Regions from separate parts of the Homo sapiens genome. Here region 1 is linked to region 2. Evidence: fine-mapped expression QTL. Tissue or cell type: tibial nerve. Region 2 holds a variant in brackets; the other region holds the start of a gene. All regions are shown on one strand. Distances are from middle to middle.

Evidence for each region. PIP is the estimated chance that this variant, and not a neighbour inherited with it, causes the effect.
Region 1: it holds the start of GPRC5B, and the variant in region 2 is fine-mapped to the expression of GPRC5B in tibial nerve (GTEx, PIP above 0.99).

The regions. Positions count from the first base shown.
Region 1 is chr16:19,880,276-19,888,275 of GRCh38, forward strand. GPRC5B (G protein-coupled receptor class C group 5 member B) reads right to left here and starts at 4,573. Exons shown (of 4, transcript NM_016235.3): 1 at 4,452-4,573. RefSeq lists enhancers at 1-393, 394-1,123, 1,124-1,855, 1,856-2,585, 2,586-3,316 and a silencer at 4,832-5,126.
Region 2 is chr16:19,609,123-19,617,122 of GRCh38, forward strand. It overlaps VPS35L (VPS35 endosomal protein sorting factor like), which reads left to right. Exons shown (of 31, transcript NM_020314.7): 12 at 1,200-1,293; 13 at 6,992-7,069; 14 at 7,564-7,686. Among named protein-coding and RNA genes, the nearest start is that of VPS35L, 57 kb to the left of the region's middle. RefSeq lists an enhancer at 100-1,299. The variant G/T (reference allele first, on the strand shown) is at 4,944.

The DNA.
Region 1 (8,000 bases), 270 kb after region 2:
GTAACGAGGTGGCTCGCCTAGGTATTTGTCCACCGCTGGTTTCCAAGCTCATGCCTGTAATCCCAGCACTCTGGAAGGCTGAGGTGGGAGACTGCTTGAGGCCAGGAGTTCAAGACCAGCCTGGGCAACATAGCAAGACTCTGTCTCTGTTATAAATAAAATAAAATAAAATAAAATAAAATAAAATAAGAAAAGAATGTGTTGTAATGAGATTACTGGTTTAGGTTTTTGTCCACTGCTGGCTTCTAGCCTCCCCCATCAAACATCAACGAAAGAGGTCCCTGAGGTGGTGTGAAGGGGAGACCCTCTTGGGGTGGTTGGCCCTGGGGACTCCCACACTCTTCTGCAACCTGCAGCAGGTGCTGTAAGTGAGAGCCTCGCTGTGGAGGTAGAACCTAGGCCAGAGGACCTTGGGGTGCCCTGAAACCAGGCATCTCTCTTGCGGAGTCAGACCCAGGACACCCAGAGAGCAGACACCAGCCATTCTCTTGGGAACCAGCATCCTCATCTTCCCTTTCACTCACGGGAAAGGAGACATGAAATGTACAAAACCATTCTAGAACATTCTTACTGGCCTTGCCCCAGCTGCTACCAGCACGGCTCCACCCTGTGTCCCCTCGACCCCAGCCATGTCCCCTCGACCCCAGCCATGTCCCCTCCGAGTGTCTAGCAGGGCAGTGGCATCTTAACCTACCTTCTCTAAAGATGGCGGTAGGCACTGGAACACAGAAGGGAAAGACAAAATGAGCAGGTGGGGTGGGAGTGGATTTCCGAGCCCTGTGCATATTTAATAGTTCAGTGCCCAGTACCCACATGAATACGGGTACACAGTTCACTCTCCCATCAGGCTGAAAGGCCTCAGTGGGAGGCAGGCCAGAAGAGGGGAGTCAGACAGAGCTATATGACACTGGGCATTACTTAACCTCTCTGAACCTCGGTCTCTTCATCTGTAAAATGGGGATAATGATAGCGCTGCCTTACAAGGCTGGTGTGAGAAGTACGTGAAAAATAGTCTGGGCCAGGCGTGATGGCTCATGCCTGTAATCCCAGCACTATGGGAGGCAGGAGATTGCTTGAGGAAGGGAGTTCAAGACCAGCCTGGGCAACGTAGCAAGACTGTCTCTATTATAAATAAATACAACAAGAAAAGAAAAGTCAGGTTTGGTGCCCGACACAGAGGAAGCAACAGCTTTTTAGTGAATTGCTTGTTAAAAAGTCAATCATGGCCAGGCGCGGTGGCTCATGCCTGTAATCCCAGCACTTTAGGAGGCTGGGGTGGGCAGATCACTTGAGGACAGGAGTTTGAAACCAGCCTGGCCAACATGGTGAAACCCTGTCTCTATTACAAATACAAAAATAAGCCGGGCGTGGTGGTGCACACCTGTAATCCCAGATACTTGGGAGGCTGAGGCAGGAGGATCTCTTGAAACCGGGAGGCGGAGTTAGCAGTGAGCCGAGATTGCGCCACTGCACTCCAGCCTGGGCGACAGAGTTAAACTGTCTCAAAAAAGAAAGACAATCATGATTCCCATTTTCCTGTTGCGAAAATGAAGGCAGAGACGTCAGGAAAATTGGCCAGAGGTTCACTGGAATTTACAGGCTGGCCTGGGACTAGCCCCCATTTCTCCCAGCTCCTGACCTCAAGGCGTTTCTGCTGCATCCCTGTTCTGAATCCCTCACGTGTGGCAGAGGCTCAGGATGGGGCTGCAGAGCCAGATCCCCATGCACCCCAGCATCATAGTCTGTCCCAACTCACTCCTGCTGGAGCCTCTGGTCCATTTCCTGCTCTGCAGGATTAAACTGTTACAAGGTTTCCTGACTTCAGACCCGCTCTTTCCCACACCCCCAATTCTCACCCTCTGATATCTTTTCCGAGTTACAGGATCTCATCATCTTCATTTCCCAATGCTGACTAGACCACTGGCCCATTTGAGGGCTCTCAAATTAAAAAATCCTCATAGGTTAGTAAACAGGGTTGCAAGAACACAAGCTCTGTGATCCATGAATATGCAAAGCAGCTCCAGTCCTGTAAATAAAAGCAATCATTGAAATGCAAATTGCATCCTTGGCTGCCCGATCCACAGTGGTTGGTTCCTCTCAGGCTGTAATTCCGAGAAGAAAATGTGACTAAGCGGAACCCCCAGGAAGCTCTGCGAGAAAGTGCTTACGGGGCCGTGGGCTCCGGGGGGCTCCGTTAGAGTGGATAAAAACTGTATGAAAGCAGGGAGTGGATTTTAAAACCTGAGCTGCTCCTCCAGTTGGCTTGCAGTGGCTGGCTAGGCTCAAAGCGGTCCCCCAAGGCTGGACAGAGCCCCTTGGAGGCTCCCAGCGTCTCTCTATCCCCATGGGCAGAATGGAAAGGGGGGCTATTTTCCATTTCCTTGTCAACGTCAGGGGAGCTTCTACAAATCAGATCCCATGGCCTCCCACTCAAAACCCTCCAAGGGTTCACTGGTCCAAACAGAATAAACCCTAAACTCCTTTCCATGACCCAAAAGATCATGATCTGGCTGGTCCCTACCATTCCCCTATCCCCACCCCCAAATCTGCCTACAGCTCCAGCCACAATGGCCTTTGTTCAGTTCCTCTAAGCTCATTCCCACCTCCAAGCTTTTGCAGGCACAGTGCCTTCCTCCTGGTTCAGTCTTCCTCCAAGACCTCCCAGCGGAGGGCCCCTCTTCTAGCTGGGCTCCACTCAAATGTCACTCCCGGAACAGTCATCTCAGGTACATACACCCCTGTCACCTTCTTTTACATCACCCCATCTTATTTTCCTGGCCGTCCTCACCCCAATCGGATTTCATAGCCATTTGCTATGGGTTTGTTTAATGTTTGTCCACTCACTTCCCCAGCCCCGGGAGAGCAGGGGTTTTGTCCGTTTTATACAAGGCACCCAGTTCTGTCCCTGGCACGTTTCTTGAAATAACATATTAATCCAGTAAAGATTCTGAGTTTATCTTTCTAACAAAACTGCCTGTCTTGCTGCCTGTGCCCCCAAATGGCGGCTCCTTCCTCCTGGAATCTCCTTCCCTTCCCAACTCAGCTGACCCCTTTCCAGGCTTAGAGCAGGGAGCAGATAGCAAACTGTTCACTCCACAGTCTTAGATACCAAACTGGCCGGGAGGGCTTCCAAACGACAGATGCCAATTTGCATTCTATTTACATGTCATTTGCATGCAGTTTAACTCAAAGCCTGGATCCTCCGCAAGCCCGAGTCCCCACCGAAGAAACTTCTGAATTAAGAAGGTTCCTTGGCTGAAGTGCCGGGGTTTTTGTGCCAGATCCCTCCCCCACTTCTCTTGTCTTTGCGGGGTCCCCCAGGGCTTTCTGGGCTCTGTTCAGGTGCCCCCCGGCCTGGTGCAGTTGGGCGGCCAATGTGGCGCGTGGGCTGGGGCCCCAGGCGGGGACGCCGCTGCCCGCCACACTCCAGGGGCCTTTGTCCGCGCTCCAAGGAGCCGCCCCCTTAGCGAACGGGGGACGGAAAGGGAGGACTGGCTAGGCCTGGGTGTGACAGAGCAAGGACGGAGGAGTGAACCCGCTGCACGGGGGAGATTTCTGGGGCAAGGTCGTTGGCCCCTTCCCAGGCTGTTCAACCGGCTGCCCGGGGCCAAGGCGGGTGCGGGCTCCTCCCGCGCGCTCCCTTTTCGGCCTAAGCGCTAGGGACCCCGGGATGTGTGGGGTCCTTGTGGGGCTGGAAGCCTGTGTCCCCCAAGGAGAGGGGACCGAGAACAGGTCTAGTCCTTATCTCCAGCCTAGCCGCCTCTTCCAGAGGTCCAAGTGCCCCCTGTCTGGAAGGGAAACGCCACTGCCCCCCCCGCCATTGTATGCAGCCGCCCCCTCCTCCCCACCCCTCCCCGTCATTCGTCCCCAGCCCAGGTCTCAGCTCTGCCATCTCCCACCGCCGTGTCCCCCCCTCCCCTTGCTGAGTAATGCGCACTCAAGCCGGCTGCGGGCTTGACCCCCAGCCCCCGCGACAGGTGCGGCTGTTCACCCCCAAAGTCCAGCCCTTGTGCCCCCGGCTGCGTCTGCCCTGTCCACAGTCAGCCCCCAACGCGGCCCCAGGACCAGCCCGCAGCTCCTCACACATGACGAGTCACTAGGACACGGCTGGGCTCCTTTACCCTCCCAGCTGCCCTTCACCTGTGGTCGCCCCCACACCCTCCTGGGAGACTTGGATCTCTACCTGGTCCGGGCACAGTCTCCCTCCCCCCGTAAAGGTCCCCAGATCCTCCCCTCCCCCGCCCACCCCTCTACGGCTCTGCTCTCGTCGCACCGTGGTTCCCCTCGCCCAGATTCCACATCTCCCCCAGCAATAAACTCCCTGGCTTGGGTTGGGGGGGCGCTTAGAAAAACACAAGAAGCGGACCCCCCAATTCTCCCAAATCCACGGCGGGAAAAGTTTCTGGGGTCCCCACAGCGTCCTCCACTGCATCGGCGCAGCTCGCACTTACCGACCCCCGCGGCCCCGCAGCGCCGACGCTCCAGCTGGCCTTCGGCCCGAGTCACATCTCTGCGGCGCGGCCGCGGCCCCCGCTCCACGCACGCCCGCCTGCGGGTCCAGCTTCACTGCAGCGCCTGCCAGAGTCGCTGCCGCGCGAGGCGCCCCCTGGCCCGGCCCGCGCTGCTGCAGCGGCCGCGGCCCCGCCCCCGCCCCCGCCCCCGGCCGGCCCCGCCCCCGGGCCTCCGAGCCCCACCCCCGGTCCCGCCGGCGGTTCCGCGCGGGGCTAGGCGCCGTCTGCATGCACCCCCGGAGCCCAAGCTCGTAGCTTCTAGCCCGGATCTCAGAGACGATTCCCCCGACCTCGTGCCCCCAATTCGGGGACATTCCCCCCACAACGTCAGTGCGCCCGTAAGCAGTCCAGACGAGCCGGGCAACTCCCCAGGGTAGATCCATTTGCGGGAACACTCCCCTAGCCAATACACTTACCGAGGGAGGTATCGCGACCCAGGGGTCCCAGCGCGGAAGCCTTCCTGCCCCCAGGCCACGCTCCAAGGGGGGTTCATAAGCAGTAACTTCCCCGAAACACACCAGCACCAGGTCCAGGACGCAGAGAGGATCGATCCCGCCCGGTGCCTCTCGAAGTCACCAACGCCCCGGTATACACCTAGGCGCACACACACCGCTAGGCCTCCTCCAGGCAGGTTCCTCCTGGACACACTCTTCTCTCTCCTCACTGCCCAACTCCCAGATGTCGTTGTCCGTTTACGCACACTGGGACCAACACCCGCTTCCTTGGCCCCTCGAAACACACACGTCCAGTCGGTGCACCCCTCACGTGGGTCCCTACGCAGGATCGCCACCACCCCTACCGCACACATCACCCACGTACGCACATGTCCACTGCCCTTCAGGGCTCACACACTCAGCGGCCCGGGCCACTGGCCGTGCGCTCCGCAGACGGTCAGGGCACAGCCCGGACGCGTGTCCGCTGGGCGGCCGTGGGACCTGCTTGAAGGAGGGGTCCGGGGCAGCCGTCTCTGAGTCCCCCTCACCCCGTCCTAGTCCTCAGGCCTCTCCGAGGTCGCATTGCTTCGACCAGGCCTGGGAGCTGCGCTCCGGCACCCCATATGGGGCTGGTTCCCTGGGTGACCTTCAGACCATCAAACCCTGGCAGTCTCAGGTGGCCCCCCGCCAAAGCCAGAAACAGACCTTTGAGCAGCATCCCTTCCCTGCACTCCAGATTCTCAGGGTGAGATTTCCTTTCTCCCTCCGCGGTGCGCCCCCCAATCTCTACCCCCGTCGCCGCAACCATCCCAGCCACATAAGACCAAAAGGGATAGGACGGACCCCTGCTCCCCTCTCCCGGGGGCTGCAGGAAGGGGAGATGCAGAACACCTCCTTCTGGGAATAGTGGCAGCCCCTGATCTTTGGGGACCGTGGCCCTTCCAGATACTCCCATCCCTCCCTGCCAGCCTCCCAGTTCCGGTCCGGTTAGGCCACATCCCCCTTGGGCACGCATCTCTGGGATACCTTTTATTATATTCAAGGGAAAATGGAAAGGAAGAACCATAATGGCAGTTTTTCGCCCCACTCCTGGTTTATTTGCATGGATCCTCAGAGCCCAGAACAGTTCCAGGCACAGTAGGCGCTCATTAAATGTTTGCGGGACGACCCAAAGTGTGTTCCCGCCAGACTGCGCAATTGGAAAGTGGATGGGCACTGTCACCTGGTGGCAGCTCTTGGAACTGACGCCGAGATCCTTTTGTCAACGTGGGCAAGTTCACTTTCGTGAGCCACATGTCCTCAACGTCTGCAAAATGGAGATCTTTTTCATCGCACATGCCTATTGGGGTTGTTGTGAAGGTCTAACACGTGCTAACATATAAAGTGCTTCACGCAGGGTCTGGCATGTGGAAAATCCTTAATATGAGCTGATTAACATTGCAGTTACGGTTATATTCCCTTTCCCACTTGTTTTACAGAGGACCCTGACTGTGATGGTCAGTTTCACTTTGGGTGATGATACCACAGGGAGCACAGAGTGAAAATGAAGGAGGACATTGAGTGGCAGGTGCATTCCTTCCCTCCAAAAAGTTCAAACACCCATGGATGATAATAATAACAATAATAGCTGAGTACATAGTGCTTTCTGTGTGCCAGGAGCTATTCTAAGTGTTTTAAATTCTTTAATTCATTTAATCCTCCCAGTTACCCTTTAGGCCAGAGACTGTTATTCTCCCTGTTTTACAGATGGAGACACTGAGGCCAAGAGGGGTTAAGTACTGCCCCGGGGTTAGACGGTTGGCAAAGACAAAATCCAATCCAGGCCATCTGGCTCTGCAGGCCATATTATCCACCAATGGTTAGACTGGTGTCATTTGCTGTCAGGTCAGACATTGTCACAGAGGAACCTCACCTCCCAGGAGAGTTCACTGGGTCTCCAGCCTTGGAGAGAATGGCTCCAGGAGGTCCAGGGAGCCATGTCAGGCTCTCAAGTGCCCAGTTCACTTTGTCTAATGAAAACCAGTGGCTTCCCTGGCTCTATTCCTCACCTGAGAAATGGTCAGTGCACTGCCCATGGCTTCCCACTGACAAATGTCATGGTATGTGTATTAATTTCATACTGCTATGAAGAAATACCCAAGACTGGGTAATTTATAAAGAAAAAGAGATTTAATGGACTCAAAGCTCCACATGGCTGGGTAGGCCTCACAATCATGGTAGAAGGCAAAAGAGGAGCAAAGTCACGTCTTATATGGTGGCTATATGGTGGCAGGCAAGAGTGCATGTGCAGGGGAACTGCCCTTTATTAAACCATCAGATCTTGTGAGACTTATTCACTATCATGAGAACAGCATGGGAAAAACCCACCCCCATGATTCAATTACCTCCCTCCAGGTCCCTCCCATGACATGTAGGGATTATGGGAGCTACAATTCAAGATGAGATTTGGGTGGGGACACAGCCAAACCATATCAGTGTGTAATTAGATATTTGCATGGCTCTCTGCTTGGTGTCTGTCTCCCCTACAAGACTGTATCTCAGTGCTGTGCCGTCCAATCTACACTGTCTGATAATGGCAGCCGCTAAACATGTGCCCACTAGGCACTTTATATGTGACTTGTATGACTACAGGATTGAACTTTCAGTTTTTGTTTGTTTGTTTTTTTTTAGATGGAGTCACTGTCACCCAGTCTGGAGTACAATGGCGCTATCTCGGCTCACTGCAATCTCCACCTCCTGGGTTCAAGTGATTCTCCTGCCTCAGCCTCCTGAGTAGCTGGGATTACAGGCGTCCACCACCATGCCTGGCTAATTTTCGTATTTTTAGTAGAGATGGGGTTTCACCATGTTGGTCAGTCTGGTCTCGAATTCCCGACCTCAGGTGACCCACCTGCCCAGGCCTCCCCAAGTGCTGGGATTACAGGCGTGAGCCACCGAGCCCGGCCTCAGTTTTATTTATTTTTAATTGATTTAAATTTAGGCTGGACATGCATGATGACTCATGTCTATAATCCAGCACTTTGGGAAACTGAGGTGGGAGGATTTCTTGAGGCCA
Region 2 (8,000 bases):
TACTTAATGTGTGTTAAGCACCTTCTGTTCTTTTTCTCATTGAATCCAAATGAAAACTGAATGAAGTAGAGACACCATCCTAATCCCCATATTAGAGAGAGGAAAACTCAAGCCTGGAGAAGTTGGTTAAGGAGGTCATGGAAGATCAGCTCAACTGGATTTGAATCTTGGCTGTACTGGTACTAGCTGTATGGTCTTGAACAAGTTACTTACAGCCTCAGAACCTCTGGCTCCCTCTCCTGGGAACATGACCCTAAGAAGAGGTCTGAGGGGGTCCTTTGGGTCACACATGCAACAATGAGAGTCACCCCTGGCACACGGTGGGCCCATCCTCCATGTTGGCTGCTGTTGATGATGATGATGATGAAAATGACGTCAGAAGCAGAAGCCTTTGCCCTTAGTGGCTTAGGTCCATGCCACTCAATTTATCACAATGTTTTGAGAGTAGTTACAGGACGTGGGGGACCCAGATCTGCTTTCTGCAGAGCAGGTGAAATGCTGAGTCATGTTAGATAGCTAGATAATAAATTCCTTGAAGCCCGGGAGTGACTGATTCATGGTGCTCCACAGATAGCTCTACCGATTGGATTTAGAATTTATCTCAAGTGTGTTGGATTTGGATCTAGGGTTGCCTGGAATAGTTTGGGGGAATAACATGGGGGCTGAAGAAACATTATTTTGCCTCACCAGTTGGAGGAGGATAATGCCTTAGGCAGAGGGAAGACATACGTTGCAGGAGAAATAAATTGTAATTCACATTGTTGGTGGTTGGAGGATGTCAGATGCCAGCCTGAGATTCACGGAAGGAACAGGGTACGGGACAGTAAATCTGTGGCAAACGAAAATACATGTGGAGAGAAGATCAAGGGGTGCCCAGTCGATGGAAAATAATTGAAGACAAAAACTGTTAAAATTAATAAAATAAATGTGACCTCGACTGGGGAAAAAATGTGGTTAGCCTCCACCACTGAGCAAATGATAACGATGAAAGAAATCATTCAATGAATGAATTGTATCAGAAGAGAAAGACTGTTGTTACATTGCCTTAGAAAACTGAAACTTTGACCTTGGTTTGTTACTGAAACTTGATTTTTCCCCCCCTCCCTGAAATTTAGGAAGTCTTTATCTTTATTTAAAAAATTAAAGAACAGCGAGTTCTCACGTCGAATATAATGCTGGCCTGTTTTTGTCTCTTGCAGGGGAATTTCAGAGTGCCTGCCCCGGTTGACATGCATGATCAGAGGGATCGGAGACCCACTAGTGTCGGTGTATGCCCGTGCCTACCTGTGCCGGGTAGGCCATGCGAGTCACTGCCCTTGACGGCACGGCTGCCACCCGTCTCCTTGAATGTTCACACAGGGCCCTCCTTCCCCACCACCCCGCAAGTCATTGAGAGAAGGACTTTATTAGTGGCTAATTTTAGATCATGGCTCTGCCACAGAAAGTAGAACTGTAGGGTTTCTTTTAAAAATTAATTTTAAAGTAGACCAACTTACTGTAGCTCTAATTAGGGGACGTTTAAGGTCATCTTCTTACAAATGAACTGGTTTTCAGAAGTAATTGTTTCTCAGTTCTTGCTGGGAAGGAGGTTCCCAGGGCCTTTGGGCTAACAGGTTGCTTTTCATTGACTTCAAACATGCTCTTCCTTTGTCTTGACTTTGATTGCTTTATTAGTTTTCTGCTTGGCAGGGGAGCAGTGTCCCACATGATGGCAGGCCTCAGGGTCTGTGTGGCCTGGCTTAGGTGGCTGCTGTGAAAGGGGGTAGAGGGACTGATTAGAAATTACTTGCCCATGCCCTGCTTTAAAGCACCGTGAGGCTTCAGCTAAGCTATTAAGTTTTTTGTGTATGGAAAAAATGTAACCAATGGAGGTTATATGGTCTTTCTTTTTTTTGGAGATGGAGTCTTACTGTGTCGCCCAGGCTGGAGTGCAGTGGCGCCATCTCGGCTCATTTCAACCTCCACCGCCTGGGTTCAAATGATTCTCCTGTCTCAGCCTCCTGGGTAGCTGAGATTACAGGTGTCCGCCACCATGCCCGTCTAAGTTTTGTATATTTAGTAGAGATGGGGTTTCACCATGTTGGCCAGGCTGGTCTCGAACTCCTGACCTCAAGTGATCTGCCCACGTTGGCCTCCCAAAGTGCTGGGATTACAGGCGTGAGCCACTGCGCCCGGCCAGTATATGGTCTCTCCATAGTTTTCTTCAGCTCACACAGGGGCTTTGCCTCTGTCAGGACTCCCCCTAGCAACGAGAATCTTCCCTATCGTCCCATCAGTATTGCACATCCTTAGAGAGGGATCATTGCACCTGATAAGCCCCAGACTTCCTTGAGGACAAAGCTGCAGTTAGAGCCTCCCCCATGAGTTTGCACCTTATTAAATCAGAAGGCGAGAACATGTAGCCTGTGATTTGCCTCTTCTGCATGACAGCCAGCAAATGTCGGAAGCCCTGTGGTCTCTCAAGTTTCACGAAAAACTAAGTCAGTGCCCTCAGAGTGAGGAGCAGATATCCATTAGGAAGGGCACTTTTTATAGGTCTGTTTCTTGATACTGAGAATGAAAGAAAAAGCCTTTCGTTTAAGGGCATCCTCTTCCCTCTTTGCAGCAGAGGCCAAAGTGTGTATGCATCGCCCACTGCTTGAAACCTGGGGGGGATTTTCCATCCAGAGATATCAGGTGTGTTTCCAAGGACAACTTTTGAATATATTAAAGCTTGAATACTCCTCCCAAGTCAGTGTTTGCTGAGGCCCTACTGTGCACAGAACACAATGCCACATCCTCTGGGAGAGATGCAAAGATATTGTTTGCATATTTCTTTTTCCTTTTTTTTTTTTTGAGATGGAGTCTCACTCTGTCGCCCGGCTGGAGTGCAGTGGTGTGATCTCAGCTCGCTCTAACCTCTGCCTCCAGGGTTCAAGCAATTCTTCTGCTGCAGCCTCCCGAGTAGCTGGGACTCCAGGTGTGCGCTACCACGCCCAGCTAATTTTCGTATTTTTAGTAGAGACGGGGTTTCACCATGTTGGCCATGATGGTCTCAATCTCTTGACCTCATGATCCGCCTGCCCCGGCCTCTCAAAGTGCTGGGTTTGCAGGCATGAGCCACTGCACCCGGCCTTTTTTTGTTTTGTTTTGTTTTGTTTTGTTTTTTTGCACCAGAGTCTCACTCTGTTGCCCAGGCTGGAGTGCAGTGGTGCAATCTCAGCTCACTGCAACCTCTGCCTCCTGGGTTCAAGCGATTCTCATGTCTCAGCCTCCGGAGTAGCTGGGATTACAGGCACCTGCCACCATGCCCAGCTACTTTTTGTATTTTTAGTAGTGACAGGGTGTCACCATGTTGGCTAGGCTGGTCTTGAACTCCTCACTTCAGGTAATCTGCCTTCCCCGGCCTCACAAATTGCTGGGATTACAGGTGTGAGCCCCCGTGCCCAGCCTTGTTTATGTATTTCTTCTCTGCTGCCTTTTACCTTGTAGAACATAGCAAATGCTTTGAACACACCTTGACATCATTTGAATAAGGCCTGATATCGGAGACCCGGTGATAAAGACTTAGAATCATGCTGTCTCTTCTGCAAATAATTCTGGTTATTAAAGAGAAATCAGAATGTGGGGAAGTATGTATTTTTTGCAAGCCTGTTCCCTTTTAATGTTTGAGATCAGGTATGTGAGTTAGGGTACACGATCATGTTTGTTACATATAAAGTGCCTTTGAATGGCAGATGCAACTTGAAACACAGTGACAATGAGGAGAAGATGCAGAGGACAGAGCAGACCCCCCACAAGATTGGTAGTAGAGTGCCCTGCGTCTGTTGAAATCATTTTTGTCAGTCCAGGCAATGCATTGATTCCGCTGGTTGGGTAGTTTCTAAAAGTCTCTTTAACATTAAAAGAGTAAGAGAGACCAAGCGCGGTGGCTCATGCCTGTAATCCCAGCATTTTGGGAGGCCGAGGCGGGCAGATCACTTGAGGTCAGGAGTTCAAGACCAACCTGGCCAACATGGCAAAAACCTGTCTCTACTAAAAAATACAAAAAATTAGCCGGGCGTGGTGGTACACGCCTGTAGTCCCAGCTACTCGGAAGGCTGAGGCACGAGAATCACTTGAACCCAGGAGGCAGAGGTTGCAGTGAGCCAAGATCGCGCCACTGCACTCCAGCCTGGGTGACAGAGCAAGACTGCCTCAAACAAACAAACAAAAAGAGACAGCCTGTGTATTAGTAAGATTTCTTTCAGTTCCAAGTGGCAAAACCCAGTTCATACTACTTTAAGCAAAAGTAAGAACTTACTGGCCAGTGTCTGGAGAGGCCAGGGTTAGTGCAGGCATGGCTGGATGCAGGCCCTCAAAGGGTGCTGTCAAGAATCAGCCTCTCCCCACATCACTCAGCTCTGCTGTTCTTTGAGTTGGCTTCATTCTGTGGCTTGCTTTTTTTATATGATGGCCCATAGCGGCCTCTGGCTTCCATCCTACCACCTTAGGAACCTTATTGGAAAGTGTGTCTTCTTGCCAGTAGATCTAGCCAGAGCCTCAGGGCTGATTCTTGGTGGATTACCTCGGGTTGTTTGTCCACCCCTAGACTAGTCACGTGGCCATGGGTTGGGGTCTGGGGTTGGTGTCTGGGTACTTACTGACTGGGTCACATGCCCTTGCATGGAGCTCAGGGTGAGGTGGATCTAGCTCCACCACAAACCTCATGGTCCAAGAGGAAGGTTTGATTCCCCAGAGACAAATCTAATTTGCCGATACCAGCAATGGGGGGGATGAATGCTGGGCAGGCCGAAACAGCAGATGGGAATCATGAGCAATACCCTTGCTGCTCTGGGTAGAAATCTTTTAGACCCAAGCAGATATCCAAGCTGCTCATTTGGCCCGATGAGAAGAGAAAAACAGAAAACAAAAGCTCTGAGTGGGTAGAGCGTGGGGGGAGCTTGAAGCTGTTATTAAAGGAA[G/T]GTATGATTAACTCCTAACTCACAGCCGCTTCAGCTCATCTCCATGGCTCAGCCACCAGGCCAGCCTTTGCTGTCACCTAACAGATAATTATTGTCTTTTCTACAATATGATTAAGTGGAAGGAGAATCAGAACACTGTAGAACTGGATCTGATATTTCTTGTTAGCATATATATATATATTTAATCTATGTGCTTGTCCTTGAAAACAGCACTTCCTGTACCCAGCAATCACAGAGCTGCTCTTGGAATTTAACACCCTGGTGGTTCTCAAATGCCATCTGAAAAACATTATTAGTGTTACCCATCATGACCTCTGGGTAGTGGAAGGTGAATGGGAGAAATCTCTCCCCATTTGAAGAAATAGGGAACCAGTCTCACTTTGTTGCCCAGGCTGGAGTGCAGTGGCACAATCTTGCTCACTGCAACCACCACCTCCCGGGTTCAAGCGATCCTCCCACCTCAACCTCCCAGGTAGCTGGGTCTACAGGCGTGCGCCACCACACCCGGCTAATTTTTGTGTTTTTAGTACAGAAAGAGTTTCACCATGTTGACCAGGCTGGTCTCAAACTCCTAACCTCAAGTGATTGGCCCACCTGGGCCTCCCAAAGTGCTGGGATTACAGGTGTGAGCCACTGCAGCCCAGCCTACGAAGTTGTTTTTGCGGTTAAGCAGCAATTTGGAAACGAAGCATTTCTGAGGAGCTCAGTTTAAGAAACACTGTGATGTTGTGTTTTAAACCTATGAACTCCCCTCCGTAGCTCATCCCTCTACTTTTCCATCTAACCCCAGTACTGGCACCTTCTCTATGATTAGTAAATTTCTTCAGCTAGAAATGTTACAGTCTGTTTTTTAACAATGAAGTCAGGACCCAGTGGATTATAGCATTGTTACACTTCATGCTCATGTTATATAAAATTGCATAAAATGTATTAAAATTTATGTCTGCTCTTATCTCTGCCTTGCAAAGAATGAATTTGTATAGCTTTTAACTAAGCATGTAACGGGGGCAGCACCACATCTGGAATTCAAGCTGACTTTCTCACGTACCGTAATCTTTGTGCTTGGTCTAATAAGTACAACCCCATGTGTGTTTATCATTTTTTTATTGTATGCACAATCTTGAGAGTACATTCCTTTTTAGTTCTGTATTGATTTGTTCTCTTGGTCGTCTGTTCAGAAATACATTCAATACCTTTGGGGAAGGGCAAAGATGATTTCTGCAAATGTTGCCCTTTTTTATTAAAAATAGCTTCTGTGGTCTTTCTTATAAAAGCAATACATGTTTATTGAAAAAGAAATCAGGCTGGGCGTGGTGGCTCACACCTGTAATCCCAGCACTTTGGTAGGCCGAGGCAGGCAGATCATCTGAGGTCAGGAGTTGGAGACCAGCCCGGCCAACATGGTGAAACCCCGTCTCTACTAAAAATACAAAAATTAGCCAAGTGTCGTGACACATGCCTGTAATCCCTGCTACTTGGGAGGCTGAGGCAGGAGAATTGCTTGAACCTGAGAGGTGGAGGTTGCAGTGAGCCAAGATCGTGCCACTGCACTCCACCCTGGGCAACAGAGCGAGACTCTGTCTCAAAACAAAACAAAAAACAGATAAGGAAAAAAAAAATAGGCCGGGCGCTGTGGCTCACACCTGTAATCCCAGCACTTTGAGAGGCCAGGGTGGGCAGATCATGAGGTCAGAAGATCAAGACCATCCTGGCCAATGTGGTGAAACCCTGTCTCTACTAAAAATACAAAAATCAGCCAGGCCTGGTGACACATGCCTGTAATTCCAGCTACTCGGGAGGCTGAGGCAGGAGAATCCCTTGAACCAGGGAGTCGGTGGTTGCAGTCAGCTGAAATCGCACCCACCGCACTCCAGCCTGGCAACAGAGCGAGACTCCATCTCAAAATAATAATAATAATAATAATAATAATAATTTTCTGGACTTTTTCTGTGTCTATAAACATAGGTATATATATTTTTTAATTTCCAAAAATAAAATCATACTATAGTCATTATTTGCAACCAGTTTTTCCATTTGTCTGGCTGCAGGTGGGAATGGAAGTGGCCCCACATCTCAAAGAAACCCTAAATAAGAACTTTTTTGACTTCCTCCTTACGTTCAAACAGGTAAGAGAACACTATCAGAATAGCTCATCGATATAACAGTTCTATGATAGCAAATTCACAAAACCCAGTTGGTTTTCCAAGTGGAGAATGCCTTAAAGCTCTTTAAATGTGCAAGCCCTGGAAAATTACACTAGCTTCTGTTGTAGACAATTAAAATGTGTTGATTGTACTGAATAAGCGGAGAAAGTTAATATGCATGTGTTAACAGGAAACGTCTCCAGTCGATCAGCCTTGCTTCTGAGCATCTGCTGGCTCCATTTTTATCAGGTTCCTGCTTTCCACAGCGCTCATTCCCAAAACAGCTCGGCTTGGTGACATGAGAAACTTTCTGTGTTTTTTTTTGGTTTAAAAAAAAAAAACAACCGAGAAACCAGGCTATTTCTCTCAGGGCTGTCCACATGCTTACAAGTATGCACAGTCTGTGAGTTGTGTATGTTTTGTTTGTTGTTTGGTTTTTCCCCTCCTTTTCTAAGTGTTTGTTTGGCCTCCTGTAGATTCATGGGGATACGGTCCAGAACCAGCTGGTGGTCCAAGGAGTGGAGCTCCCATCTTACCTCCCCTTGTACCCGCCTGCCATGGACTGGATCTTCCAGTGCATCTCCTACCATGCCCCCGAGGTAACTGCCAGGTGGCTTCAGTGTGACGCTCACCTCCTGTATGGTGACAGCCCCTGCCCACTGTGCCCTTTAACGTTAATGGGACCCTTTCATAACAGCTATAGCAATGTTAGTGCTAGCCAGCCTTTATAGAGGGCTTGCCATGGTGGCTGGCTCTGTGCTGAGTGCTTTTCTGAGATAGTCTCATTTTGACAGCTGTGGAAGGGGAATGTGGTAGCTCCAGAGGCCATGTACCTAAGTGAGGCCACACAGCTAGAAAGCAGTTTGGTGGCTGGGTGTGCTCATATCTGTAATCCCAGCACTTTGCAAGGCCA